Linked DNA regions of Homo sapiens: all the other regions are linked to region 6. The links come from fine-mapping of genetic effects on gene expression. A gene starts in region 6. Each other region holds a variant in brackets. All regions are shown on one strand. Distances are from middle to middle.

Region 1 (4,066 bases), 54 kb before region 6:
GATCTGTTGCTGTGTCAATCTGAAAGCTGAGGGATCTGAAGGGTACGTGGTACCCATTCTCTGACTCTCACTCCCAAAAGTCCTTTTCTCCCTGGGTCAACATACGGTTGGTGCCCAAGGCCCTTCCTAGGAATTGGAAGCCAACAGTGACACAAAGCACTTAGGAGGCACACAACCACAAATGTGTGAGGTTTGCCTTCCCATATTTTCTGGACCCATGTTCAAGCCTGGAACTCTCTAGTTCATAAAGGGTTTTACTCTTGCAGGAGTCAGCAAACTATGGCCTGTGGGTGGAGGGCCAGATGGGGCCATGCTCATTCATTTACATACTGTCTAATGGTTGCTCAAAAATCACAGAGTTGAGTAACTAAGACAGACTGGAAGGCCCACACAGGCAAAAAATGTACTATCCGGACATCCACATAAACAGTTTGCAGGCCACTGATTTAGAGTAAGACCAGTTCTCCTGGGGGCAATGGATTGTCTTTCTTTGCTTTCAGCCTGACCAATGCCCGTGGGTAGGGATGGAGAGGGAGCCCATCTCTCTAGTTGATTCTGATGAGAAGAACCAGGGTGACCCACCTGGAATGTGAGCCTCTGATCTTCCAGGCATCTGGCATGCCCATTTCTTCCACAGAGCAGGATAGAAGCTCCTCCCAGCAGGGGGTCTTGACTATTTGAGACCACTGTAAAAGAAAAGTAAGAACAAGTGATTCACGTTTGTGTTTCCTGTAAAAAGAACATGGTTGTCAGTGCTATTAACCTGGTTACCACTGACTTTGACGCAGATACAGCCGGTTCATGTTTCAGAACTTCATGAAACAGGCCTGTGCCTTCAATCAGAGGCAGCCCAAAAGACAAAATTGCCAACACTTTCTATTTGCAGTGGCCCAGGAATTATCAAATAACCTTAGTTCCTATTAAACTCCTGCCTATTTACCATTGCCTAAACCTGGAGGCAAAATCTAAATCCAAACCATCACAGGTAATCTCCAATCTCACATACTTTTCCAAAAGATTCATGTGTTAGGAAAGGATGATTGATGGCTCAAAAGTCACCAGTGCCGATTCTTGTGTTAGCAACCATAGTTGAAGTCAATGCTTAGAACTGGCGTGGGAAGATGTTCTCAAAACTGCAGCTTTGTGCCTTTGTGGTTATGTAACAGCCTCCTCCATACAGAGGATTACTACGAATGGGTGCTTCCTGCTGTTGTCTCATGTTGATGAGGCATTTTATATTCTTGAGGAATATTCTGGAGGGAGGAGGTTGGTGAAGACTGGTAAAGTAGAGAAGAGAGACATTTTAACAAAATATTCATATTTATCTGGTCTCTAACATGAAAGCTGCATATTTTGTGGTATATTAATTAAGTCATTTTTATAAGTTATAAATGATACTAGTACAGTAAGTCCTCACTTAATGTCATCGATAGGTTCTTGGAATCTGTAACTTTAAGCAAAACAACATGCAGCAGGTTCATAAATAATGTCACTTCCTTTAACGTTTTGTTATAACGTTGATGAGAAAAAAACGCTTTTGTTACATGTCATTTTGCTTAAAGCTATAGTTTCCAAGAAACTGTCGATGACATTAAGTGAGAACTTACTGTATAATAACATTATGTTAGAGTTTAGTGGGCTCCCAAAAGATCTTCTCTTACCAGGTAGACAGTTCTCTCTTTTAGAGATAAAAGAATTGAGCCTCACAGAGGCCGTATGAGCAGTCAGAGTCCCACTATGTTCCCACCTACCATTCACCACTAAATCCTTAGTCTGGCTGCAGAAAACAGAAAAGATTTATTTCCTCAAAAGTCAACTTCTTTAGACTACATTGACCCTAATAGAATTCAGAAAGCAACTCTTAGACTCAAATTTTTCTGCTTATTGCCACCACCACACTCCCCCA[G/T]TCATATGACAAGAGTCGTTTGCGGTAGGAAGCAAAACCAGAAATGCACTTGAGCAGTCTTTCTATGTCCTTCCTTGCCTCACCCCCATTGGGGGCCTGCATGATGGTGAGTGGCCACATAAACAGTCCCTACGTCTCCAGGAGTTCCCTTGGCCATGGCTGCTGGAATGACTCATCCTTCTCCATCTGTAGCCTAGGCTTTCCCCTTCTCCTTAATTTCCATGAGGGAGCAGTCTTAGATCAGAGCCTCCCCAAGGGGACAGGACCACAGCCCTCCCTAAAAGGTCCTGGATCTGGTATAAATCTAACCATGGGAGAAAACAGAATTCAGTTACAGACAACATCAAGGGCAAACTTGAAGGGGAGCAAAAATCACAATATGGGTGTGGGAACTGGACCACAGAGTTACAGTGGTCATTTCCTCCCCACCACATCTTGTGAACTTTACCTTGCCCACTGCCCCAAGGGGCAACCATGTGGCTCATGGCCCTGGCCACCAATAACTGAATTGGGAGTAGACCCACTTTAAACATGACCCACTTTAACCAATCAGACATCTTTATCTAGAACTTGGAGTTGGGACACAGAAAGCCTGAGGGTGTTTTTTTATCTGTGAGTGCTAGACTCACAAGATTCTGTGGGCTCAAGGACTGAGTTAGACAGTCATTTAAGGTCATGTGGTAACAGAGTATGCTTGACGAAGGGGGAGGATGGAGCAGAGACAAAGATAACTGAGAGAAAGGGAGGAGGAAGGGCAGCTCCAGACTCTAGCCCTTCAGTGATCCAGGTGCAATTCTTCAAACTGGGTTTCACAGTATTCCGTTATCACTGTGCAAGTAATCCCCATTTACTTAAGTTACTCTGAGTGGGTTTCTGGCCCTAGCAACTGAGTGCTCCCCCACCATAAGATGAAATGGCTAGGCTGGAGCTGGGAGGCAGAGGCAGTGAGTGAGGAAGCTAGACGGATTTTTCCAGAGAAAGTAAGTCCTAGAGTCCAAGCATATGCACGCTATCCACACGTTCCAAATTTTAGGAGACAGCCCTGTTTCAAATGTGCCAGCTTGCCCAAATTTCTGTTTAGGCAATTGTGGTATATCTGTTTATATATATAATTTTAGCATTGGGAAGGCCCTCCTAAGTAAGACACAAACCTGGAAACCACAAAGAAAAGAAAAGATTGACAGATTAGACTACCTAGCCCTAAATTTTAAATTGCCTTTGACAAAAGCCACCATCAGCAAAATTAAAAGTGAAGGGGCAGCTTGGGATCTAAGTGACAGCTGGAGAGCCCCTGCACACTACAGACTCCCTCCTGCTGCAGATCAGACTTCTGGACAAGTCCAGCCCTGGCTTTGTGGCTGTCATGACTACTGAAAATGTCGTAACTGTTGGCAGCAAGAACATGACCTCTTGCTGTCCCAAAATGAGGAAATGAAAGGGAAAAAAGAGGAAATGGGATGAAATGAAAAATGGATGCAAACAACAGAGAGTGAGCAAGAAACATTGAGAAAGATGAAAAAAATGAGCTGTTTATCTCTCCTCTGCTTCTGGGCCCTCTCCTTTGTGCTACCCTAGTGATGTGCTCTATTGGTCCATTCTTACGTTGCCATAAAGAACTGGGTAATTTATAAAGAAAAGATGGTTAGTCAGCTCATGGTTCCTGTGGGCTGTACAGGCTTCTGCTTCTGGGGGAGGCCTCAGGAAACTTACAATCGTGGCACAAGGTGAAGGGGAAACAGGCCATTAGCAGCAGGAGAGGGGCAAAGGAGATGCTACACACTTTCAAACAAGCAGATTTCCTAAGAAATTGGGGGAATGGCGCTAAACCATTAAAAACCACCCCTGTGATCCAATCACCTCCCACCAAACCCTCCCTCCAGCACTCGGGATCACAGTTCAACATGAGATTTGGGTAGGGACACAAAGCCCCACCATACCATTCCACCCTTGGCCCCTCCCAAATCTCATATCCTCTCACATTGTAAAATATAACCATCCCTTCTCAACAGTCCCCCAAAGTCTTAACTCATTCCAGAATTAACTCAAAAGTCCAAGTCCAAAGTCTAATCGGAGACAAGGCAAGTCCCTTCCACCTATGAGCCTGTAAAATCAAAAACAAGTTAGCTACTTCCAAGATACAATGGGAGTACAGGCATTGGG
Region 2 (4,066 bases), 40 kb before region 6:
CATAGAGAAGCCTCGGGTTTTGAGTAGAAAGGTCTTTGTCCCTAGCTCTAACCCAACTGTGTGACCTTGGGCCTAACTACTCCATCTGTTAAATGGGGAGCATGGTCATACGCCCCACTGCATTTCAACAGCTGATTCTGACAAGATACCGCTGACTGTCTGCCCAGCAGCCATTCTTCACTTCATTCCAACAAACCCTGATTTTTTTCAAATATTCACCCCTTCCCCATTGCAGTCTTTGTACTTCCAGGTTAGGCCTAAATTGTCTAAGTATAATCTCATCCCCCTGCCAGTGAGAGGTTCAGGAATAGGCATATGGACCAATTAGGTTTAATAAGATTTATGGGGAAGTTTGCTGGGGCTTCTGGAAAATTCTCCACCTTTAAGAGAGAGCCATAGGAAAAGAGAGTCTCTCCCTCTGGATGTTGTCAAGCTTGGCCCTATTATTGCAATAGCCATGTTATCCCCAGCCTGAGAATTAAACTGAACACAGATGAGGCAGAGCTGAGAATCCCAAGGAAATGGGATTGGAACTGCTGAATTAGGCAAACTTGAAGCTTGCCCTGCCTCTAAATTTCCAGTTATGAGGGCGAATTCTGATGGCGTACACTCTTGGAATCAGTTAACTTTAATTTATAACCGCAGTTCTGATCATCATCTGTTTAATTTTCTTTCTTAATTATAGTAAATGTTTTTTTCTTTCATGGGCTTTCCTTCCAACTTCTTGTATCCTTCGCTTTCCCAATTTTGAAAAAAAAAAAAAAATGATGCCTCAAGGGAATATTTGAGTGAAAAGGATAGGCCTTAAGCCAACAGTTCAGAAATGACTCATTTAAATCTGCAGAACTGAGAGAGCCCAACCCAGGCCTTCCAGTTTGGTCATAGAATCAGAAGATTTTTCAAGTCGGAAGGAACCTTGATGCTCAACAAGTCCTAATCCCATTTTGTAGATGAGGAAACTGAGGTTCAGAAAGATATTATGAAAGTGCCAGACAGCTGGGTACTCCCCAGGCAGCACCTTCACAAGACTTACCTGGTACCCCAATTTGACTCCTGTCATATTTCAGTGGGGGGGATTTAAGCCAAAATATATCACAATTGGTTCTTTGAACCCTTTGTTTCCTGGCAAATCAAAGTTCCTCATTTGTAGTAAGAACTCAAAGAGCAATGTTCCTATCACCACACTGGAAGTCCAGTCTTCTTTTAGACCTCACTAGTGATTTCTTTCTAGAAGTCCCTAGGGAAAGTCCTCACAAATAATCCAGACTTCTCTCTGCAGTGCCTGTGCTCTTGGTCTGCACCCCTTGCTACCTTCTGCTACTTCAATTATTATTTCTTCGTACTCCTTGCTCACAATCCAGGCTGCTGTCAACTGCCCCCCACCCCCGCCCCCCCCACCCAGTGCAACTCTATCTCTGCTCAGCCGGTGAGCCATTGTCCAGGTTCCTTCTGGCTGTCCCTGGATTGCCACTTATTCATGTTCTTTTCCCTTTCTAGCATGAAGAAAAACTCCTGTTCCATGGCAGCTGATTTCTCCCAGGAGATCTGGGCCTCTGGTGGGCAAATTGCTGCTCTCTTCCCCAGCAAGCTTCTCCCTGGAACACATGTGCACTCGGGGGAATGGGTTTGACCAGGGCTGGTTCCAACCCAGCATTACACTGTCTGTGGGATCACATCTCTTTCCAACATCCAGTTCTGACTCCCATTCCCCTCTGTTTAGCTGCTTCTTCACACAGGATGCTTCTCAGAAACTTCACTTCCAAATTATGGGGTGGGATTCAAGCTGGAATTCTTCATCTATGATGAAATTTTAAAATGGTATTCAAAGCTTTGTGCAAAATAGCATTTTATGGTACGTAAACCTCTAATTTTTATCAGACTCTCAAAGGGATCTGCTAGAGACCACGGGCCTCTAAAGCTCTTTAAGTTCTAATGTTCTGTGACCCTGTGATTGCATAATATGATTTTGTGGCAAATTTGCCCAAAGCAGAAGCATTCAGTCACTCTCCCAAACTGCTCTATTACATTCCTAAGTGAGTACAAGAGTGTATGCAAGCATTTTAGCCTTATTCGCACAGAAGATATTATATTAAGAGAATAATCAAGGATTCAGCATCAAAAGCTTTATCAGCAAGATATTAGTACTCTACCTAGAAGACTATTCTAACCTCAAGTACTATAAATATTAGGAGATCTTTATTTTCATAGCAGCAAGATCTTGGAAACTGTACTGGTGAAAAAAAGATGGTGCTTAGAACTCCTGCCTCCCTTTTTAGTTGCTCTTTCTGTTCAAGGAGTGGGATGCATGGGAAAGGTGGCCTGGCTCCCTTCTCCTCTGTGTAGCCTGTAGTTCTACGATTGGCCCCTAGA[C/T]GGCGATCTTGTGTTAGTGAGGGACATGGTAACTAAATGAAGTGGGAGCCGGCAGTGACTGATGGCTGAAACTGTCAACAGATCAAATGGTAAGAAGTGAATAGTAGTGATTTTTAACCGTGGTTGCAGGATGAAATTGGAAAAGTAACACAAAATCTTCCTATATTACTTAGAAGGAAATTTGGAAACACTTAGAATTAGTCTGTGTATTGAAAACATGATTTAAGTGTGATATTTAGAGGAAACTGTCAATTAAAAAAAATTTTTAAATTATGGTAAAATACATATAACATAAAGTTTGCCACGTTAACCATTTTACAAATGTGCAGTTTTTAAACCAAGTGCACAATCGGTAGTGTTAAGTGCATTCATGTTGTTGTCCAACCAGTCTCCAGAACTCTTTCCATCTTGCAAAGGTGGAACTCTGCATCCATTAAACGGCAACTTTCCGTTACCTCCTCTCCCAGCCCCTGGCAAACAGTATTCTACTTCCCATGTCTATGAATATGAGTGCCTCAGAGAAGTGGAAAAAAGTATTTGTCTTTTTGTCACTGGCTTATTTCACTTAGTATAATATTCTCAAGTGGGACCTGCCAATTTTCATTACAAAATTATTTTTTAATTTGTAAAGAAAAACTGGCAATTAGTAAAAACCATAAGACTGGACATTGTCTCATGCTCACAGCTTCACAGGCAAATGCACTCATTCAAACCAGTAAAAGTGAAAACCTCCATCCACAAGACCCACCAGGAGGTCTCATAAGGCTCTATTAAACCTGCAAACTCACAAGACTGCCAAGGCCCACTCTAGACAGCAGTTGACCCAGAAGATTCATAGGCCAGGAGGCAGAGCATGTCAGTAGGGCACATCCAGACTTCCTCTTCTGCGGGACCTCGCAGCAGACCACAAAGCCATCCACACAGTGGGCAGAAGCTATTCTCTTTGGCCCCCATGTGGACTGAGTTGTGAAGAAATGAGACTCACATCAGTGGGGTGTGGAGGCCACACTATATGAGAGGCCCTGTATTTCACAGCAGCTAATATCTCTTGGAGGAACTCCATGGCCATAACTTTCATGGTCTTCTCAAGGTCATGCCAGTTACAAGGGTCACTGCACTTAGGGAAACTCGAAAATATGGCTTCTTCTCTGGTATTTATAGTTGTCCCAATCCAGATAGGATTTACCAATCAGGGCCCACTTGTACTTTCCTTTATCAGGTTTCCATGGGAACAGAGCTAGGAAGTTAGCCAAAAATCAAATGCTCATGCAAAACTGGAAAGGGTTTCGTTAATCCTTTATTCACTGCCCTTCACATGGTTAGATTACAAAGTCTGACAAAGCATCCAGTTAAATAGAAAGGAGTCAGAATGACAAACTGATATGAAGAACTAAATTACACAATGGCATTTGTCATCTCTTATTTGTTACAGCTGCTTTGGTGTTCAAAATGGATGCGACTTTGCACAATGCCTGGTTACTTCTGGGGAAAATTTTCCATTTCAAAGCTTCATAAGAGAATAAATTATATTTGGGGGGTGGATTTAAATACAATTGGAAGAGGGTTTCTCTCTAAAGTAATTTCTATAGAAAATAGTGAACAGAGATTAAGAGAGCAAGGAAAAACAAATCTGGGCTCCAGAAGGAAGCCAGTTAAGAAAGTTGACTGCCAGAGGGCTGGTAATTCAAGAACAAGA
Region 3 (4,066 bases), 73 kb before region 6:
CTACTCAGTATTGCTTGGCTATTTGGGGTGTTTTGTAGTTCCATATAAACTTCAGGATTATTTTTCTATTTCTGTGAAGAATGTTATTGGTATTTTGATAAGAGATTGAATCTGTAGATTACTTTGGGTAGTATGGTCATTTTAACAATATTAATTCTTCCAATTCATGAGCATGGAACGTCTATTTGTTTGTGTCTTCTTCAATTTCTTTCATCGGAAAGAATTTATTAAATTTGATTAAATTTATTCCTAGACAATTAATTTTTTATAGCTATTTTAAATGGGATTACTTTCTTGATTTCTTCTTCAGCAAGTTAATTATTGGTATATAGAAATGCTATTGATTATGTATGTTGATTTTGTATTCTGCAACCTTGTTAAATTCATTTATCAGTATAGCCATTATAGAAAACACTATGGAAGTTTCTCAAAAAATTAAAAATAGAACTACCATGTGATCCAGAAATCCCACTGCTGGGTATTTATCCAAAGGAAAAAAAATCAATATATCAAAGGGAGACCTGCACTCCCATGTTTATTGCAGCACTATTCACAATAGCCAAGATACAGTATCAATCTAAGTGTCCATCAACAGATGAATGGATAAAGCAAATGTGATACACACACACACACACACACACACACACACACACAATGGAATACTATTAAGCCGTAAAAAAGAATGAAATTCTATCATTTGCAGGAACATGTATGGAATTGAAGGGCATCTTGTTAAGTAAAATCAGCCAGGCACCGAAAGACAAATATTGCATATTCTTACTCATATGTGGGAGCTAAAAAGATGGATCTCATGGAGGTAGAGAAAAGAATGGTAGCTACTAGAGGCTATGAAGGGTGTGTGGGATGAAGAGAGGTTGGTTAATAGGTACAGACATATAGTTAGACGGAATAAGCGCTAGTATTCAGCCTCAAAGTAGGGTGACTATAGTTAACAAAAACATATTGAGTATCTCAAAATAGCCAGAAGAGAAAATTTGAAATGTTCCTAGCTCAAAGAAATGATACATGTTCAAGGCGATGGATATCCTAAATACCCTGATTTGATCATTACACATTCTATGGCTGTGTCAAGATATCACAGATACCCCATAAATATGTGTAATTATTATGTATCAAAAACTTTATATAAAAAACATTAATTTGCTGTATTTTTGATTCTACAATTGGGCAGCACTTTATTCCATAAAATAGAATGAGTGTTCTGATGAGCCAAGAAGAGGAGGTTGGTTTTACAGACAGAAAAGGGCTGTGGAAAGCAGAAAAAAACAAACAAAAAAAATGTGGATTGGTCATTTCAAAGTTTCTTTTCATGTAAAGGTTAAAGCAGAGGGGACTTTCTTGTCCTGCTGGCACTGGATCTAGGTCAGTGTTGGAGACGATGTCTGGGACTCAGGGCCTTCGCAGATCACAGAGGCTGGTCTTGCACAACCTCTAAGAGGCCAGGCCAGGCCATGGCTTACCTAAGAGCTCAGCCCAGGGAAGCCCTAGGTCCTTTCCTGGCATCTTAGAGGGAACCATGTCTTACTGGCTCAGGCTAGACTTGCACATTAATCCACTGAGTTGACTTTGGATCTTACAGGCTCAAAGGGTGGTCTTTGGGAGCAGGAAGTGATCAGGACCCTGGTCAGATTCATATATCTGCAACTGAGCCCACTCAAAGAAATAAATAGAAAAATTACATATTTTTGGTTATTTGCCTTAATGTCACAGATTACCATTAGGCCAAAGATCTTCTGAGGTATATGCGTACAAGGTGATTTTTTAGTGTTTTTTTTTTTAAATTCTCTCTTTTTCTATAAATTTTAATGATGACTTGAGTATAAAACAAGATGATCCACTCTGCAGCACCAAAGGTGGGCAAGAGAAGAGATCAGAATCTGGTATGAGACTGAAAATCACTGTGGCAACCAGCTTCAGTGGGGCAGCTGGGGTTGGCTCTGAAGAAAGTCTGTTCCATTTGTATAGCAGACAGGAGCCCATGGGGTTCCCATCAGCTAGCACTGGGAGTGGACTTCAGAGGCTGCACGGGCTGCTGTTGGACTGGTCT[A/G]GGGGACGGGGGAGGAGGGAAGATGCCTGTGAGGCAAGGCAGAAGGGCTTCTAGACCTCAGACTGAGGGTCAGGGAAGACCTATCTTCCTAAAGGTGTTGGGGAATAGTTAGGCTAGCAGATCAGAACAGGTCAAAAGAATAAGCACTATGGTAGAGGCTATTGTGGGTTTGGGGAAGGGGAGAGAGAATAAAGGGAGGAGAGATCTGCAGCTTGTGTGCCTACACTGTTTCTCAGAAGCCTAGGCCTGGGAGCTGGTTAGCAGCAAGAACACACAATAGGGAAAGCCCCGTAATTGTCCTGGCTCCTGGCACTGGGAGACTGACTTAGTTCTCATGGCGAGGAGCTCTCTGAGAGTATCACCCGGGCAGAAATGTAAGGAGCACACCTGGTTTTGGCCAGTCATTGCCATGTTTGCAATAACATGGCTGTGGGCCAATATCATTAGGCAACTTTGTGACTTGGTCATTGAGCAATGATCGAGGTCCTATTTGAAAGCTAAGGTCAAGCTTATGAAGCAATGCCAGCTTGTAACATCGTGCAGGTTTATTTAACACAGATGAAACCAAGACATATCTTTACCATCCAGGAGTAAATTATCCCAGGCACAGGGAAAGATGAAGTAGGAATGTTTCTTTTGGTGTCTTCCATGTCTAGTTTCAGAGACCCCATTCAGCTCCCATCTCACTCTGTATCTCACCCCTGGCCTGTGCTCTATTCTCTCAGGGCCACGATCCTTCCTTTAGTCTTCCTCCATCTCTCCATCCCTCTTTCCTTCCTTCTTTCCTCAAATATATTTTTTGAAACAGTACTCAGGATTTTATTTGTTTATGTTTTAATTTCAACTTTTATCATAGATTAAAGGGTACACATGCAGGTTTATTACATGGGTAAATTGCATCACCCTGAGGCTTGGGATCCCAATGATCCCATCACCCAGGGAATAAGTATAGGACGCAACAGGTGGCACTCCAGCCCATGCCCCCTGCTCCCTTCCTTCCCCATCTAGTGATCCCCAGTGCCTATTGTTCCCATCTTCGTGATCATGTGTCTTCAACGTTTAGGCCCCACTTACAAGTGATAACATGCAATATTTTGTTTTAGGTTCTTACATTAGGTCATTTATGGAGGTCATAATGCCTTCCACCTCCATCCATGTTGCGAAAGGACATGATTTCATTCTTTTTTATGGCTGCATAGTATTCCATGGTGTATTTGTACCTCATTTTCTCTCTCCAATCCACTGTTGATGGGCTCTTAGGTTGATTCCATGTCCTTGCTATTGTGAATGGTGCTGCAGTGAACATAGGAGCATATGTGTCTTTAAGATAGGATGAATTACTTTCCTTTGGGTATATACTCAGTAGTGGGATTGCTGGGTCTAATGGTTGTTCTATTTTGAGTTCCTTGAGAAATCTCCAAACTGTCTTCCACAGTGGCTCAACTAGTTTGTGTTTCCATTAAGAGCATATAAGCTTTCCCCTTTCCTCTGCAGCCTCACCAGCAACTCTTATTTTCTGTCTTTTTAATAATAGCCATTCTGACTGGTGTGAGATGTTATCTCATTGTGGTTTTGATTTGTATTTCTCGAAATTATGGAATGCTGCATAAATTTGTGTGTCATCCTTGTGAAGGGGCCGTGCTAATGTTCTCTGTATTGTTCCAGTTTTAGTACATGTACTGCCGAAGCGAGCACTTGAATATTTTTTGAGCACCCGGTATGTGCCAAGGGTAGAGCAGAAAGTCTCTTCTCCCATGGGTCTTATATTCTAGTCAGGCGAGACTTACTACAAACAAACATAGAGCCATTGAACATATCAGGTGGTAAAAGGTGCCACGAAGGAAAATGAAATAGGGGAAAGGTACACTCAGCATGTCCAGGAAAGACTGGTCTGACAGGATGCTCTCTGAGGAGAGCCTTGGAAGCAGTGAAGGGGAAGCCAGATGGGTATGTGGGGGCGAAAACAAGGGGGGCCCAAGGCCTCAGGTGGGAGCCATT
Region 4 (4,066 bases), 180 kb before region 6:
TCCAGCAAGGCCCACAGATCAGCAAGGAAGCCAGAGAGTGGGACGTTTTTGGTAAAACCCGCTGCTGGTGATGGCCTGGAAAGATGTTTTCTGAGAAAGCTTGGGCAGCTTGAATGCTGGGAGAGGGTGTGGTGGTCCCTGGGGCAGGAGACCCTTCTTTCTGACTCTGTAACCACAGCCCCGGTCTGCTTCATCACTCCGTGGGCAGTGATGGTCTGTGCCCAAAACGCTGTGATTCGAAAAGAGATAATTTGCAGGCAACATGAAGAAGTCCCAAAAAAGACAGTATTAGAAGAAAATGTCCTTCAAGAGTTTTAATGTAGGTGGAGAGAAGGCAGGATGGAATTCAAAATCATGTTTTGAAAGGACATGGTGTCCTTTCAAAGCTCCAAGCGTTGCTTTGCTGTGCTCTGGGCATGCCTTGGGCTGGATGGGAAGAAAAGTGAAAATAAAGTGTGTGTGCATACATGCATGTGCACGTGTGTGTGTGTGTGTGTGTGTGTGGTGTTTTCTAAAATATCAGAGGACAGGATGTCTGACAAAAGACTCTTGTTAAATGTGTTGTTGAATTAAGTTGCCTTGGAAAGAATTTCTAAAAAAGCTTTCAGAATCAACACTTCTCAGTTTCTCAGCAAGGATTTTGCCAGAGCAATAGAAAAAGACATTACATTGTTCCCAATTCAGTTCTAGCACTCTCTTTTTTTCCTTGCATACTGTCTTCACAGGAAGGAAAAAGTTGTCTAAGGGAGGAAGACTCAGGGCGTTGCATCGGGACTCCCCGTTCTCCTCTAAATCCTACCTCTTACGATTCTTTTCAACTCTTTTTCCAAACTTTTAAAGGCTTTGTGGACTTCTTAGAAACCGAAAGTTCCCAAGAATAGAATACGTGTCCACTGGAAGTCCCCGTAGGTGCCCAGGGCTGGCGGGACTCTCTTGGTGGTGTAGGACCTTGCTTGGATGTTGAATGTGTGGGAAGGACACCCACAGGGGGAAACCCAGGATGGTGGACGTGGGGCCAAAATATGCAGCAGCTGCAAAGGATCTGGGTACTTGGCTCTACTGCCCTCTAATGTGAGAGAAGCCCAGATCAACACGGGAGGGAGTGGGCGTTAGACAACCTGCAAAGAGACAGATCTGAGAGGTGCGGCTCCCCGTGGACTTAGTGTCTTTCAGTGAAACCACCGTTCACTCCTGAAGATCTGAAGATGGAGGAAGTTTTTCCCATCCTACTCTCCCCTTTTAATTTCCTAAGCAAAATATCATTTCATCTTTCTCAGTCCATCTTTTGTGTCTGATGAATGGATTGAGCTAGATAATCTCTAAGGTCTTTCCAGCACTAACCTCCTATGCAAGGTTGGCTGCATAATTTGCAGGGCCTGAAAATGCAAGGCCCTCCTTCGAAAATCAAGGAAAAATGATGTGAAAATTACTAAAACATAAAATTCCTTCCTTTCCTCTGTACTTTCCCTCTCGACTTGTCATGAAGTTTTTAAAATTTATTGTTGTTCTAAGAAAAGAAAAATTAAAATTTAATGATATTAGCATAAAATGGCAATTTTAAATGTAAATAGAAGAACATTTAAATTTTACGCAGAATCACTAAAATTATACAATTTATATTTCTCAGTTTGTACATTCATATATATTTTGTGTTTGCCAGAACAATGGAAATGCTATACAAAATGAGCTCAGATTGTTTTCATTTCATTTTTTTGTATGAGGACTTTCTACCAACAGTCTGTACCTTTGACTTACTGATGAGTAAAGAAAAACTGAGCTGGGTGCACAGGCTCACACCTGTAATCCCAGTGCTTTGGGAGGCTGAGAGGGGAGGATCACTTGAGGCCAGGAATTTGAGACAACCCTGGGCAACATAGTGAGACCCTATCTCCACAAAAAAATTAAAAATTAGCTTGGCGTGGTGGTGCAGGCCTGTAGTCTTAGCTACCCTGGAGGCTGAGCTGGGAGGATCGCTTGATCTCAGGAGTTCAAGACTGAGAGCCATGATTGCAACACTGCACTCCATCCTGGGCAACAGAGCAAGACCCTCTCTCTTTTTTGAAAGAAAA[G/T]GAAAGGAAAAAGAACAACTGAAGGGAAAAGGAACTATGAGTTGCCCCATTTCCCCCTGTCCTTCTGTGTCACCATTTTCACCGTAATTGGTTGGCTAATACAGGAAAATCACATGAGTAAGAAAGCAAAAAGCTGATACAGGAAAAAAAATCAACTGTTTCTGTAAAAAGTAATAAAAAAGGAGCCATCACAGGATCTTTAATATACAAAGATGTTACAAGAAGAAAGAAGGAAAGTAGTAGGAAAAACAAATATCAAATGAAGTGCAGACTCTAGAAGAATGTTGCAGCCCATGTCATAAAACTATGACATTAAAAAAGAATGAGGCCGGGCATGGTGGCACATGCCTGTAATCCCAGCACTTCGGGAGGCTGAGGTGGATGGATTGCTTGAGGACAGGAGCTCCAGACCAACCTGACCAACATGGTGAAACTCCATCTCTACTAAAAATACAAAAAATTAGCCAGGCATGGTAGTAGGCACCTATAATCCCAGCTACGTGGGAGACTGAGGCAGGAGAAGCGCTTGAACCTGGGAGGTGGAGCTTGCAGTAAACCAAGATTGTGCCACTGCACTCCAGCTTGGGCAACAGAGTGATACTCCATCTCAAAAAGAAAAAAAAAAAAAAAAAAGGCCATACCACTTACCTGTTAAAATGGCCAAAATCCAAATCCAAAACACTGCCAACACCAAATACTGGCAAGGATATGGAGCAATAGGAACTCTCATTCATTGCTGGTGGGAATGCAAAACGGTAGAGCCACTTTGCAAAGCAGTTTGGTAGTTTCTTACAAAACTAAACATACCCTTACCATACGATCCAGCAATCATGTTCCTTGGTATTTACCCAAATGAACAAAAACTTGCACACAAATGTTTAGAGCAGCTTTATTTATAACTGTAAAACATGGAAGCAACCAAGATATGCTTCAGCAGGTGAATGGATAAATAAACTGTGGTACATTTAGACAATGGAATATTAATTAGTGCTAAAAAGAAATGAACGATCAAGTCATGGAAAGACACGGAGGAACCTTAAATGCGTATTACTAAGTGAAAGAAGCCGATCTGAAAAGGCTTCATATGATACCAACTATATGACATTCTAGACAAGACAAAACTATGGAGACAGTAGTAAGATCTGTGGTGGTCAGGGGTTTGGGGGAGGGAGGGCTGAAATGGCGGGGCACAGAGGATTTTTAGGGCAGTGAAACTACTCTCTATGATAGTATAATGGTAGATACATGCCATATATCTGTCCAAATCCATAGAATGTACAACTCCAAAAGTGAAGCCTAATGTAAACTATGGCTTTGGGTGATATTGATTTGTCATTGTAGGCTCATCATTTATAACACGTGTATCCCTCTTGTGGGGGATGTTGATAGTGGGGTGGGGGCTATATGCACATGCAGTCAGGGAGTATATATGAATACTGTATTTTCTGCTCAATTTTGTTGTGGACCTAAAACTGCTCTAAAAAATAAAGTCTATTTAAAAAAAAAATATGACTGGGCACAGTGGCTCGTAATCCCAGCACTTTGGGAGGCCAAGGTGGGTGGATCATTTAAGCCCAGGAGTTCAAGAGCTACCTGGGCAACATGGCGAAACTCTGTCTGTATTAAAAGTACAAAAAAATTAGCTGGGCATGGAGGTGCATGCCTGTAGTCCCAGCTACTCCGGAGGCTGTGGTGGGAGGATCTCTCTCTCTCTCTCTCTCTCTGTCTCTCTCTCTCTCTCTCTCTTTTTTTTTTTTTTTTTTTTTAAGGCAGAGTCTCAGTCTGTGGCCCAGGCTGGAGTGCAGTGGCACAATCTCAGCTCACCGCAACCTCCGCCTCCTGGGTTCAAGTGATTCTCCTGCCTCAGCCTCCCGAGTAGCTGGGGCTACAGGCATGCCACCACGCCTGGCTAATTTTTGTATTTTTAGTAGAGACAGGGTTTTGCCATGTTGGCCAGGCTGGTCTCAAACTCCTGACCTCAGGTGATCTACTGGCCT
Region 5 (4,066 bases), 98 kb before region 6:
ATAATCTTTTAATCGATGCCAAGTCTTTCTTCTGGTTTCTTTATTTAGGTTAGTAACAGTATCATTCTTCTTTTTCACGCAGCCACCAAATCACAGACCTCCGTAGGCTCCTGTTGGTGAAGTCTTGCCTATCCTACCTCTAAGAATTTGATCCCTCTTTTCCATTACTACCTCCAAATTCCTAATTCAGACCCCGGTCACCTACCACCCATTCTAGCTTAAGAAGCTGTCAAGCATAGTGATTAAGGGCAGGTACCTGTGTCTAGATTAAAACACTGCCTCTTCTGCTTTAGCTGTGTGAATTTGAGCAAGTTGTTTAATCACCCTAAGCCTCAATTTTATCATCTGTAAAGTGGGCTAATAACGGTTCTTGCTATCAGAATTAAATCAGATTATGTATATGAAGTAGCATCTGCAAAGCACTCAGTACTGGTAGTGATTAGTACCACCTGTTCTCTCATGACTCCATTTCATTTGACTTACCACCGCTAGGTTTACCTTCAACAAGGCAGCCCTGATCACGTTTTAAAAATCCTCAGTGCCCCCACCCAGTATCAACCTAACACATAACAGTCCCATTTTGGCATTCCAAATTTTCCATAAGTCTTATGACCTCCTACTGCCTTAAATTTACCCTCTGTTCCAGTCAAATGGACCACTTCCCTCTTCCCCACATCCTCTCCACAGTATAGCCTCTGTGCGTTTGCTTACATTATATTTTCTGTTTGATTCACCCTCCCTTTCCTTCAAGGTCTTACTTGAATGGCTGCTCTCTGATGACTAAATGTCTTTTTCTCTTCTTTTATAGTCTCTGCACATAATTGCACCTGTCTAACATGATGACCTGCTTTCTTCCTGGTCCGGCATGTTCATCTTACCTCTCTAGCTGGAGGAACCTTCATTCACCTGGCTTCAAGTCACCACATGTCAGCATTAAGGCTGAAACGTTCAAGCAGTCATTTCCCCTCCTGCCAACAAGATACTAAAAAACCAATTTGAGCAAATTCTCCACTAAGCCACTTGGCTAGATCAATGTTTGATACACAAGGTCTTGCTCAAACAACAGCCAAAGCTGGAAAAAAATTGTGGCTATGAGACACGGAAAGGATCTAATTATTCTTCCTTAAGCAATGTTCTTAACCGCAGCCTGTTTCCCAGCTTCTGAGCACTCTGCTTGAGTGATTAGCAATGCAAGATTGCACATTGGCCTTACCTCATACAGGATGAGGTAGTTCAATCCAAATTTCTCAAATAGTTTTTAACTTTTTTCTTCCCAGTATGTCTGTAAGAGCTGGAAAATCATTCAATAGTTTTTAAAGAAAATTTGTGCCTTTAGCAGCAACTGGATGCAAACATCAGTTCTCATTTAAAAAAAAAATTTCAGCTTTATTGGGGCATAACTGACAAATAGAAATTGCATGTATTTAAGGTATATGACTTGATGTTTTGATATATGTATACATTGGAAAATGATCACCACAATCAAACTAGTTGACTTACCCATCACCTCACATAGCTGCCTCTTTTCTTTTGTGGTGAGAACACTTAAGATCTACCCTTGTAGCAAATTTCAAGTCTACAATACGGTATTGTTAACTGTCGTTACTATGCTGTATATTAGGTCTCCAGAACTAACTCCTCTTGCATGGCTGAAGCTTTGTACCCTTTGACCAACATCTCCTCATTTCCTGTATACCCCAGCCCTGACAACCACCATTCTACTCTCTGCTTCTAGGAGAGTAACTATTTTAGATTCCACATATACAAAAGATCAGGCAGTATTTGTCTTGCTGTGACTGGTTTATCTCACTTAGCATAATGTTCTCCAGGTTTGTCCATGTTGTCACAAATGGAAGGATTTCCGTTTTCAAATATCAGTTCTCTTCAAACCGTTTGAGTACCCTGAGAAAGTTTTTGGTTTCCAGTGGCTGCTCCTTTCAGAAACTATGCTACTTTCTAAAATCTCATTTAGGAGTAGCAATACTTTACTCCAGACACTGGCCCCAGACCAGTGTGGGAGGAAAGCCGTGAATCCTTAAAGAAAGTGATGCTTTAAAAGTCTGAGGTTAAATTCCATTTTGAAAAGTTTTAGCACAACTTCCCTTCTCCCCAGAGCTGAACCTCACTTCGTGCTATTTTTTACTCAGTTCAAGAGTGTTTTTTTTTTTTAAATAACTTGTCTCCTTATGAATTTTAAATAAGTTAATTAATAGGATATTGCTAGTT[T/G]AAATCATAATATAAATTCAGAAAATATTTTATAAATGGACCTATGCCATTTGGACTTAAAAAAATTATAAAGGCTTGAAACATTTGTGTGCATAATCCTGTTTTTATAATTTCAGTATTTTGCATTGAAATATACCTCACACTACACAGCTGACCTGGCAGTTCTATGAATGGCATTCAAAAAAGTCAGTCTTGTTTCATGAATTTATCTGTCAGCAAAATGCCTCTTTTATTATTGTTTTAAAATATATTTATCGGATTCACTTTTGCCTTTTCTTATGACGTTTGAAGATATTTGCATTTGCTTTTCTCTTTCTCCCTTTTTTTTTTTTTTTTTTTGAGACAAGTTCTCGCTCTGTCACCCAGGCTGGAGTGCAGTGGCGCCATCTCAGCTCATTGCAACCTCCGGCTCCTGGGTTCAAGAGATTCTCTGGGACTTCAGGTGTGTGGAAACTTGCCTGGATAATTTTTGCATTTTTAATAGAGATGGGGTTTCACCATGTTGGCCAGGCTGGTCTCGAACTCCTGGCCTCAAGTGATCTGCCTGCCTTGGCCTCCCAAAGTGTTGGGATTACAGGCATGATCCACCACCCCAGTCCTTCTTTTTCTCTTTTGAAAAGAAGTTTTAAAATTCTTTAAAAAGTTTTTCAAGGAAAATTTTCCCAGGAAATAGGAAAAATTTCAACCATACACAAAAATAGAGAATATAGTACTGGACTTCAAACATCAATCACTTAAATTCCAGAATTATCAGTATTTTCCTACTTTTACTTCTGTACATTTTTCCTTCCTTCCTCCTTTATTTTGGCTGATGTATGATAACCGAATCCCAGAATTGTGTCATTTTAGCTTTCTGTATCTAAGTGTTGATTGCTAAAAATAGTGGTGTTTTCTTACATAAACACAATACCATTAATCACACCTATCAAAACTAATAATATGTTATTGGTATCATCTAATACACTATCCAAATTCAGATTTCCCTCATTGTCTTCAAAGTGTTGCATTGACGATGGTTTGAGGCCAGGTGTGGTGGCTCATGCCTGTAATCCCAGCACTTTGGGAGGCCGAGGCAGGCAGATCACTTTTGAGCTCAGAAGTTTGAGACCAGCCCAGGCAACATGGTGAAACTCCGTCTCTACAAAAAATACAAAAATTAGCCAGGCACGGTGTTGAGTGCCTGTAGTACAAGCTACTGGGGGAGGTTGACGTGGGAGAATCACTTGAGCCCAGGAGGTTGAGGCTGCAGTGAGTTGTCATTGCACCACTCCATTCAGCCTGGGCAACAGAGAGAGATGCTATCTGAAAGAAGAAGGAAGGAGGCAGGAGGAAGGAGAAGGAGAAGAAGAAAAGTTGGTTTGCTCAAATCAGAATCTAAGCAAGGTCCATGCAGTGCATTGAATTGTCCAGGGATGGAGAAGAGGCTGAAGAAGAGGCTTAGGTAAGCAAGAGCATCAGTGCAGGGGAAGTTCAGGAAACACTGAGCTGGAGGAAAGGATAGAAGCATTACTTGAATAATGATCTTTGAGAGGTGCAAGTCATGATTGGAACAATTTTAGCTATTATTTAGCTACTAGATATTGCCTCTTTAAACATAATTCCATGCATAGACTGAAACTTGGAGGATCCCAAGATTTGTTCTATTTAGAGACCTGACTTCCAGAACTATTCTACCTCCTCCATCACTTCTTACTCCAGTAAATATCATGGAACACCCTTCTCAGGTTGAAAAGAAATTTAGAGACTTCCAGAGTAGGCATTGTCACAGCTTTTGCTGGCAATCCATTACAAAATTAGCTGTCCCTATTTTCAGAGGAGTGTTGTGTGAGATCTCAATTCC
Region 6 (4,056 bases):
AATAATTAAAAAGTTCTTCCAGCTGATTTTTTTTTTTTTTTTTTTTTTGAGACAGAGTCTCACTTAAACTCTGCTGCCCAGGCTGTAGTGCAGTGGTGCAATCTCTGCTCACTGCAACCTCTGCCTCCCACGTTCAACCAATTCTGCTGCCTTCCCCCCTGATCCCCGAGTAGCTGGGATTACAGGTGTGCACCACCACGTCCGGCTAACTTTTGTATTTTTAGTAGATGGGGTTTCGCCATGTTGGCCAGGCTGGTCTCGAACTCCTGACCTCAAGTGATCCGCCCGCTTAAGCCTCCCAAAGTGCTGGGATTACAGGCGTGAGCCACTGCGCCTAGCCCCACGTGCATTTTTTTTTTTAAGGGAGGCAGGAAAGAAGGCATTTGGGCCTCTTATCTGCAATTTTCTTCCGTGTAAACTTATGTGAAGGATCTGGAGTGGGACTTGGTGGCTTCAAGCCCTGGCTCCACTTCTTGATGGCTGCGCGACCTGGGTTAAGTCACGCAACCTCTCTGAACCCTAGTTTATTCATCTGTAAACAGGTCAATAATAGCACGAGATTCGCAGCGCGAGTGGAGCTCAAAGTGCAGGGTTGTCCCTGGTGAACCTATCACTTTTATATTTATCCTTTGATGAAGCCAGTACAATTCCTACCTGGTTAACCAGATACATCCCACCTCTTCCCTCGAGTTCGCCCTTCCCCCCGCCTCGTGAAGTCCTTGTTCTCTTAGCTGTCTTGAAAATCCTATGCATCAGCATGTAGGAAAGGGCGCGCCAGGCGGGGGAAGCCACCCCCGCCCAAGCGCCTCCGGCTTCCCTTATAAAGGGAGGGCCCCCTTCGCGACCGCAAGCGCGCCCAGGAAGACCACAGAGCCGCCGGTGCGCAGCGAGGTGGCGATACGCGCCCGGGCTCGGCCTGCGGGTGGTGGCCCAAGCGTCCGCCTCGCTGGCCTGGCAGGCGCGACTGTGCGTGCGCAGCCGAGGGTGGTGGCGGCCGGCACCCCACGCCAAGGGTGGTGGTGGCCGGCACCCCACCCTCGGCCGCCGCCTCCGCGTGTCAGGTGCCGTGAGAAGCGCGGGAGGAGCGGCCGCAGGCAGCGCCCAGGGATATGACTGGAGCCGACTTTCCAGAAGCGGCGCACGCAAAGCCCAGCTCCGCACGCAAAGGGGAGGCGACAGCAGAAACTTCAACCCGATAAAGTTCGCCGGAGCGCGGAGATTCGCCTCCTCCTGCCACTCTCCGCCCCGCTCGGGTCCCGCCCCGCTAGCTCCCCCAGGCCCCCCCAGTCGCCCCAGCTTGGCTCCCCGCCCTGCGCCAACGGCTTCCATCGCAGCCTGGGCGGCCCCGCGCCCACCAGCGGGCGGCGCCACCTGGAGTGGCCTCTACGCGGGAAATCTCAGGGCCAGCTGCGCCCCAGGAGCCTTTGTGTGCCCAAGCACTGTCGGGGCCCCGGGGCGGGGGAGCGGCTACTTTTAGGGATTCCTGATCTCGCCGCAAGAACTGGAAAAAATTTAGCATGCCAAAGAGCCTCCACTGAGGTGGCAATTTGTTTGCGAGAACCTAAGATAAAATTTAAACAACCAACCAGGGGCGCTGTGAGGCAAACCGCTGCCACTACACTGGCTTTCCGGGAAGCAAGCTCAAGTCGCGGAGAGGGAAGGGAGGTCGTGCGCTCGGGGCGGGGCGCGCTCCCAAGTCGAGCGCAGCGGCCGGGGCAGGTTGTACCGAGCGTGGTTCTGGGGACACCGTGCGGCCTCGATTGGAGGTGGCTGTGATGAAGCGCGGTTACCGCACAATGGAAACGTGGGCACCTCCGCTCCCATGAAAGCCTGCTGGTAGAGCTCCGAGGCCGGCCGGTGCGCCTGGACGGGAGTCCGGGTCAAAGCGGCCTGGTGTGCGGCGCGCCCCGCCCCCCGCAGGCCCCGCCCTGCCAGGTCGCGCTGCCCTCCTTCTACCCAGTCCTTAAAACCCGGAGGAGCGGGATGGCGCGCTTTGACTCTGGAGTGGGAGTGGGAGCGAGCGCTTCTGCGACTCCAGTTGTGAGAGCCGCAAGGGCATGGGAATTGACGCCACTCACCGACCCCCAGTCTCAATCTCAACGCTGTGAGGAAACCTCGACTTTGCCAGGTCCCCAAGGGCAGCGGGGCTCGGCGAGCGAGGCACCCTTCTCCGTCCCCATCCCAATCCAAGCGCTCCTGGCACTGACGACGCCAAGAGACTCGAGTGGGAGTTAAAGCTTCCAGTGAGGGCAGCAGGTGTCCAGGCCGGGCCTGCGGGTTCCTGTTGACGTCTTGCCCTAGGCAAAGGTCCCAGTTCCTTCTCGGAGCCGGCTGTCCCGCGCCACTGGAAACCGCACCTCCCCGCAGGTCAGTCTGTCTGCCGAGGCGCTGCCCGGCGACCTCTTCAGATGGATTATTACAGGTAGCGGGTGGCGTGGTAGGTACTTTAAAGGAAATCAAGCGCCACCGCCTCGATGCCCGCAGCGTTGTCCCCAGATTGCAGGAACCGTTACGCGCCTTGCGGGGAGGGGAAGGGTTTGGCGCTGGGTTACAGCGAGGTGGAAACACGCCCCTTCTCTTCTCCAAGGGAGAGTGGGTTGGGGATGGGAAGGGGCGTCTTCGGCCATTTCTCCAGAGAGTCAGCTCCGACCTCTCCACCCAACGGCACTCAGTCCCCAGAGGCTGGGGTAGGGGCGTGGGGCGCCCGCTCCTGTCTCTGCACCCCTGAGTGTCACGCCTTCTCCTCTCTGTCCCCAGCATGGGCACCAGCCTCAGCCCGAACGACCCTTGGCCGCTAAACCCGCTGTCCATCCAGCAGACCACGCTCCTGCTACTCCTGTCGGTGCTGGCCACTGTGCATGTGGGCCAGCGGCTGCTGAGGCAACGGAGGCGGCAGCTCCGGTCCGCGCCCCCGGGCCCGTTTGCGTGGCCACTGATCGGAAACGCGGCGGCGGTGGGCCAGGCGGCTCACCTCTCGTTCGCTCGCCTGGCGCGGCGCTACGGCGACGTTTTCCAGATCCGCCTGGGCAGCTGCCCCATAGTGGTGCTGAATGGCGAGCGCGCCATCCACCAGGCCCTGGTGCAGCAGGGCTCGGCCTTCGCCGACCGGCCGGCCTTCGCCTCCTTCCGTGTGGTGTCCGGCGGCCGCAGCATGGCTTTCGGCCACTACTCGGAGCACTGGAAGGTGCAGCGGCGCGCAGCCCACAGCATGATGCGCAACTTCTTCACGCGCCAGCCGCGCAGCCGCCAAGTCCTCGAGGGCCACGTGCTGAGCGAGGCGCGCGAGCTGGTGGCGCTGCTGGTGCGCGGCAGCGCGGACGGCGCCTTCCTCGACCCGAGGCCGCTGACCGTCGTGGCCGTGGCCAACGTCATGAGTGCCGTGTGTTTCGGCTGCCGCTACAGCCACGACGACCCCGAGTTCCGTGAGCTGCTCAGCCACAACGAAGAGTTCGGGCGCACGGTGGGCGCGGGCAGCCTGGTGGACGTGATGCCCTGGCTGCAGTACTTCCCCAACCCGGTGCGCACCGTTTTCCGCGAATTCGAGCAGCTCAACCGCAACTTCAGCAACTTCATCCTGGACAAGTTCTTGAGGCACTGCGAAAGCCTTCGGCCCGGGGCCGCCCCCCGCGACATGATGGACGCCTTTATCCTCTCTGCGGAAAAGAAGGCGGCCGGGGACTCGCACGGTGGTGGCGCGCGGCTGGATTTGGAGAACGTACCGGCCACTATCACTGACATCTTCGGCGCCAGCCAGGACACCCTGTCCACCGCGCTGCAGTGGCTGCTCCTCCTCTTCACCAGGTAAAGCCTCTGGGAGGCGTGGGCCAGGTCTTTTCTCCTCTGAAAAAGGCGGAGTAGAGACAGAATATGCTGAGTTTGCAAGCAGGGCCCCGGGTTTGGGGTTTCGCTCCAGGTCCCCACCCCTCAAAACCAAGATCGCGTCGGTAAAGGGACTCACAGTGAGGGCTGCGACACGCGCACGCGCCCCACCCAGCGGTGCCCCGACCCCTCCGGTCTCCTATCTTGTCTCTATCGTCCCCTCCCCTGCTTGCGAGT
Region 7 (4,066 bases), 49 kb before region 6:
TTCCACATTTTCAGGTATCTTTGTAGTAATGCCTCACTTCTCTGGTACCAATTTTCTTCATTAGTCTGTTCTTGCATTGCTATAAAAACTACCTGAGACTGGGTAATTTATAAAGAAAGATGTTTAATCAGCTCACAGTTCTGTGGGCTGTAAAGGCTTCTGCTTTTGGGGAGGCCTCAGGAAACTTACAATCATGGCAGAAGGTAAAGGAGAAACAGGCACACCTTCACATGGCCAGCAGGAGAAGGGCAGCGGAAGTGCTACATGCTTTCAAACAACCAGATCGCCTGAGAACTCTATCATAAGGCAGCACTGTGGGGATGGTGCTAAACCATTAGAAATCACCCTCATGATCAAATCACCTCTCACCAAGCCCCACGTCCAACACTCAAGATTACAATTTAACACGGGATTTGGGTGGGGACCCAGAGCCAAACCATACTATGCACTAACTCATTTAAGCTGTTGTTATCTTAATCATGGGCTCACTGTAGAATGGGAGTGGTAGGAAGAAACATTAAGTGAGTGGTCATAATGGTGGCTTAGAATTCAAACCCATTCCATGTGACCCCTCACCCATGCTTGGCAAATTAAATCCATGATAATCCAAAGGGTTTCAAAATCGATTTTTTTTAGGTCTAACCGTTTCCTTCCCATTCTTATCATTTCCTCTTCCCTTAAAGCAAATTCCCTTTATTCTTACCACCCACTAGAATGGAGACTTGAAATTAGGTTCTTTCAGCTTGCCAAATGATAAACAGCTCTCTCAAATTAAGCCACATCTCATCCAGAGAGAAGGCAATAAAAATAGTGATTTATGTGGTTGAGAGTACAGTGAGACGTTTTTATAGCATCACAGATGGTTTTCCAAATTGCAGAGCAGCTTTATTTCTTTCTGCATATCTCAGTTTCTCAGTCCACAATTTGAAAATAATAAAGCTGCCCTCTTCCTACTTCTTGGGTGAATTGGTTAAATCATGAAAATCTATAAATAAAAGCACTTTGAATCCTAGAGAGAAGAGTCAAATAATAAAATAATCCCATTTTTCATCCATATGATGAAATTATATAAGGTCCCCCATATAATGGGGGACCTTATATAATGAGAAGGCTAGGCATATTGCTATGTTTGTGGGCAAATGATCTGGCCCAGAGAACACCTGACTCCTAGGAGTGTCAAGCTGGGGAAGAGGACTCAAGTATATACACAGTACCGTTATTTCAGATGTATCTTTGATAGCTCTAAAGTAACTACTGGAAACACCTATAGGGTGGCATGATAAGATAACTGAGATTTACATTTATACTTTACTACTCCCATTGGTTTTAAAAAACAAGACTGCTTGAGTTTGGTTTTCATCATGGCGGCTTCAGTCTTAGCCCAGGCTCTCCACATACTCTCTGTTCCAACTTCGACCCTAGGTGTACATGAGATCCATTCTCAGCACCTCTGGGCCCATTCCCTTCTACCCAAGCCAGGAGTGCTGGGTGCTGAGATTTAACAATCCAGATCAGAAGCGGCACCATGCAGTGTTGAGAACACAGGCCCTGGAGCAAGTCTGCTGCGTGTGAATCCCAACTCGCCTCTCTGACCTGGCATATCTCCTTATCCGTGATATGGGCATGGCACTAACATACCTACTCATAGGACTCTGGGGACAGTTAAACGAGACAGGGTCCATAAAGCACTTAGCTCACTGCCTGGTACAATAAATGGTGACTACTTTTTATAGGCAATTGTGAGAAACATGGTGAATGTGGGCAGGGTAAAATAGTTGGATTGGTGCTTCTTCTGCAGGTGGCATTCAACTCTTTTTGTGTTTGTTTGTATTTATTTTTCTTATAGCAAATTTCCTTTTTTAAACTGTGACCAAACAAATAGAATGATTGCTATGGTTTTACAATTTGCATGGCTGAATGAATATACCTTTGATAGTTTTTTTTATCATGTTTCTAATTGTTAGAAAAAAATTCTTTTTTCCTCTTCTGGGATTTCAGGGCATTA[C/T]ATTGGAAAATAGGTATTAAACTGATATGGGACAGAGGCCATGGCATATATCCTACAAAATCTGTATCTACACTCTTATATTATACTTACTTGCCCATATCTTTGAACTTGGGGCCAATCATAAGATCCTACATTCTAGTTACCAGAAAAAGAACATAGTAATTGAGTATGTAATTGAATATTGTTGGCTGGGAGTGGTGGCTCACGCCTGTAATCCCAGCCCTTTGGGAGGCCAAGGTGGGCGGATTACTTGAGGCCAGGAGTTTGAGACCAGCCTGACTAACATGGTAAAATCCTGTCTCTACTAAAAATTCAAAAAAATTAGTCGGGGGTGTTGGTGTGTGCCTGAAATCCCAGCTACATGGGAGGCCGAGGCAGGAGAATTGCTTGAACCTGGGAGGTGGAGATTTCAGTGAGCCAAGATCGCACGACTGCACTCCAGCCTGGGCAACAGAGCAAGACTCTGTCTCAAAAAAAAAAAAAAAAAAAAAAAAAAAGTTTATGGGTGAGTATTGAGCTAAGTGCATTATCCCATTCAATCCCCAATCTTATGAAGCAAATACTATCATTAGCCCTATTTTACAGATGTGGAAAGTGAGCCTTAGAGAAGTAAGTAATTGCCATAAGTCACACATCTGAGAAATAATGAAGTGAAAATTTGAACCAAAAGCATCTGGATCCAGAGCCTATGTTTTAGGAACTTGCTGTGGCTTTGATGCATCAGAATGTGGGAGCTGCAGGCCTGCGTGGACTAGTCTTGGACTCTTAACTGCTCTGCCATCCCACAGCAGCTGATAGGTTCATATGAAGCCACTGGCAACTGGTGCCAAGTTACCAGTAAGAAAATCAGACATTTTGATCTATCTATCAATTGGAATGTGCATGTCCAGAATAGATCTAGATATTTTTTAAAAAGCATTCAATGCCTAATTTTTAAACAAACTGCACATGCGAAGAAAATGCCCATGCATTTCTTTAAGCAGAAATATAAGTTAGTGAATTTGTTTCTTCTTGATAAAATGGTTAGAATTTGCTTAGAAATTCCTTTTATCATAAAAGTAAAAATTATCAGCTTTAACCTTCTCATTTGTCTCCTACTGCTTCTTTTCTTGTTCTTTATTCTCATCCATCCCCTTCTCTGTCTTTGCCTCTACTCTTCCTCTATTCCTTCATAAGAATCTAAACAACTCCTTTAAACATCAATTCAAATGTTCTTCCCTTGGATAGAGATCACTTCCATCCCCTTCATAACTAGCTGGGCCTAGTACCTTTGGGTTAGCAATTTTGCCAGAGATGTTGGAGAAAAAGGGGGTAGCATTTCCTCTTGAAAATCCAGCCTGCAAGGCATTTACAATCTCATGCTGGTTTCGTAAGGCCCTGCTGTCCCTCCAGAATAGAGGCCCACAGCACTCACTAGGTACCAGGCATGGTGAACTTGCTTGCCCAAGCTCTCTAGTAGGTGGCAGATTTACCCAGGTCTGCCTGACTTTAGAGCCTATTCTTTTAATCATTGTACCTTACTGTCTTTATAGACAAGGTCAGGCTCTCTATGCTTCTGTGAGATAATTTTCCCTAGGAGTGTAAATAGTTACTATAGAGACACTAGATGCCACCTGCTATAGCCCTCAGAAGTGGCATCAGACTATGCCTGGGCTTTCTGTTTTAAGGACAAGGAAGAATGAGTGTGACAGTGAAAGGTTGTATTTGTAAAGGCTGGAAGAGCAGAAATCCCCAAGTGCTAGAGAAAAGAATGTGGACAAGTGTATGGTATCCAATCATAGTATGTTAGAGCTGAGTTGGGCTTTAAAGATGATCTCCTCTAACCCCTTTATTTGCAGTTGAAGACGTTGAGGATCTGAGACATTAAGTGAATTGTCTGAGGACACACAGCCAGTTTCTTAGATGCAGAGCCAAGGATGAATTTTTTTCATTCAGACTAAGCTGTTTTTTGCAGTCCACCTTTACTCTACTTGGGGTTCATTTCTTTTTAAGAAGTCTCAAAGATTAGAAAATTGAGTCATTTTGAGCAATATAATGTCATATTGTACAATTCTGCTGAAA

What was found.
Region 1: its variant is fine-mapped to the expression of CYP1B1 in whole blood (TOPMed, PIP above 0.99).
Region 2: its variant is fine-mapped to the expression of CYP1B1 in whole blood (INTERVAL, PIP above 0.99).
Region 3: its variant is fine-mapped to the expression of CYP1B1 in whole blood (TOPMed, PIP above 0.99).
Region 4: its variant is fine-mapped to the expression of CYP1B1 in whole blood (TOPMed, PIP above 0.99).
Region 5: its variant is fine-mapped to the expression of CYP1B1 in whole blood (TOPMed, PIP above 0.99).
Region 7: its variant is fine-mapped to the expression of CYP1B1 in whole blood (TOPMed, PIP above 0.99). The same link has a PIP of 0.9 or more in T cells, blood mononuclear cells and monocytes.

What each region holds. Positions count from the first base shown.
Region 1 is chr2:38,128,131-38,132,196 of GRCh38, reverse strand. It overlaps CYP1B1-AS1 (CYP1B1 antisense RNA 1), which reads right to left and starts at 1,092. Exons shown (of 3, transcript NR_027252.1): 1 at 1,007-1,092; 2 at 583-686. All of the region lies in intron 2 of LOC107985871 (a long non-coding RNA gene), which reads left to right. The variant G/T (reference allele first, on the strand shown) is at 1,907.
Region 2 is chr2:38,113,729-38,117,794 of GRCh38, reverse strand. All of the region lies in intron 3 of LOC107985871 (a long non-coding RNA gene), which reads left to right. Among named protein-coding and RNA genes, the nearest start is that of CYP1B1-AS1, 15 kb to the left of the region's middle. The variant C/T (reference allele first, on the strand shown) is at 2,371.
Region 3 is chr2:38,147,112-38,151,177 of GRCh38, reverse strand. The region is part of intron 2 of CYP1B1-AS1 (CYP1B1 antisense RNA 1); the gene reads right to left. It overlaps LOC107985871 (a long non-coding RNA gene), which reads left to right and starts at 1,012. Exons shown (of 4, transcript XR_007086290.1): 1 at 1,012-4,066. It also overlaps the pseudogene RNU6-951P. RefSeq lists enhancers at 3,917-4,006, 4,037-4,066, 3,417-4,066, 3,531-4,066. The variant A/G (reference allele first, on the strand shown) is at 2,069.
Region 4 is chr2:38,257,579-38,261,644 of GRCh38, reverse strand. No RefSeq gene overlaps it. Among named protein-coding and RNA genes, the nearest start is that of ATL2, 120 kb to the left of the region's middle. The variant G/T (reference allele first, on the strand shown) is at 2,070.
Region 5 is chr2:38,171,831-38,175,896 of GRCh38, reverse strand. The region is part of intron 2 of CYP1B1-AS1 (CYP1B1 antisense RNA 1); the gene reads right to left. It also overlaps a transcript of LOC107985871 not described here. Among named protein-coding and RNA genes, the nearest start is that of CYP1B1-AS1, 43 kb to the right of the region's middle. The variant T/G (reference allele first, on the strand shown) is at 2,227.
Region 6 is chr2:38,074,091-38,078,146 of GRCh38, reverse strand. It overlaps CYP1B1 (cytochrome P450 family 1 subfamily B member 1), which reads left to right and starts at 1,996. Exons shown (of 3, transcript NM_000104.4): 1 at 1,996-2,367; 2 at 2,758-3,801. The coding sequence starts at 2,759. RefSeq lists silencers at 881-1,000, 1,911-2,000, cis regulatory regions at 1,044-1,073, 1,994-2,001, an enhancer at 975-1,173 and a promoter at 640-2,015.
Region 7 is chr2:38,122,767-38,126,832 of GRCh38, reverse strand. All of the region lies in intron 2 of LOC107985871 (a long non-coding RNA gene), which reads left to right. Among named protein-coding and RNA genes, the nearest start is that of CYP1B1-AS1, 6.3 kb to the left of the region's middle. The variant C/T (reference allele first, on the strand shown) is at 2,006.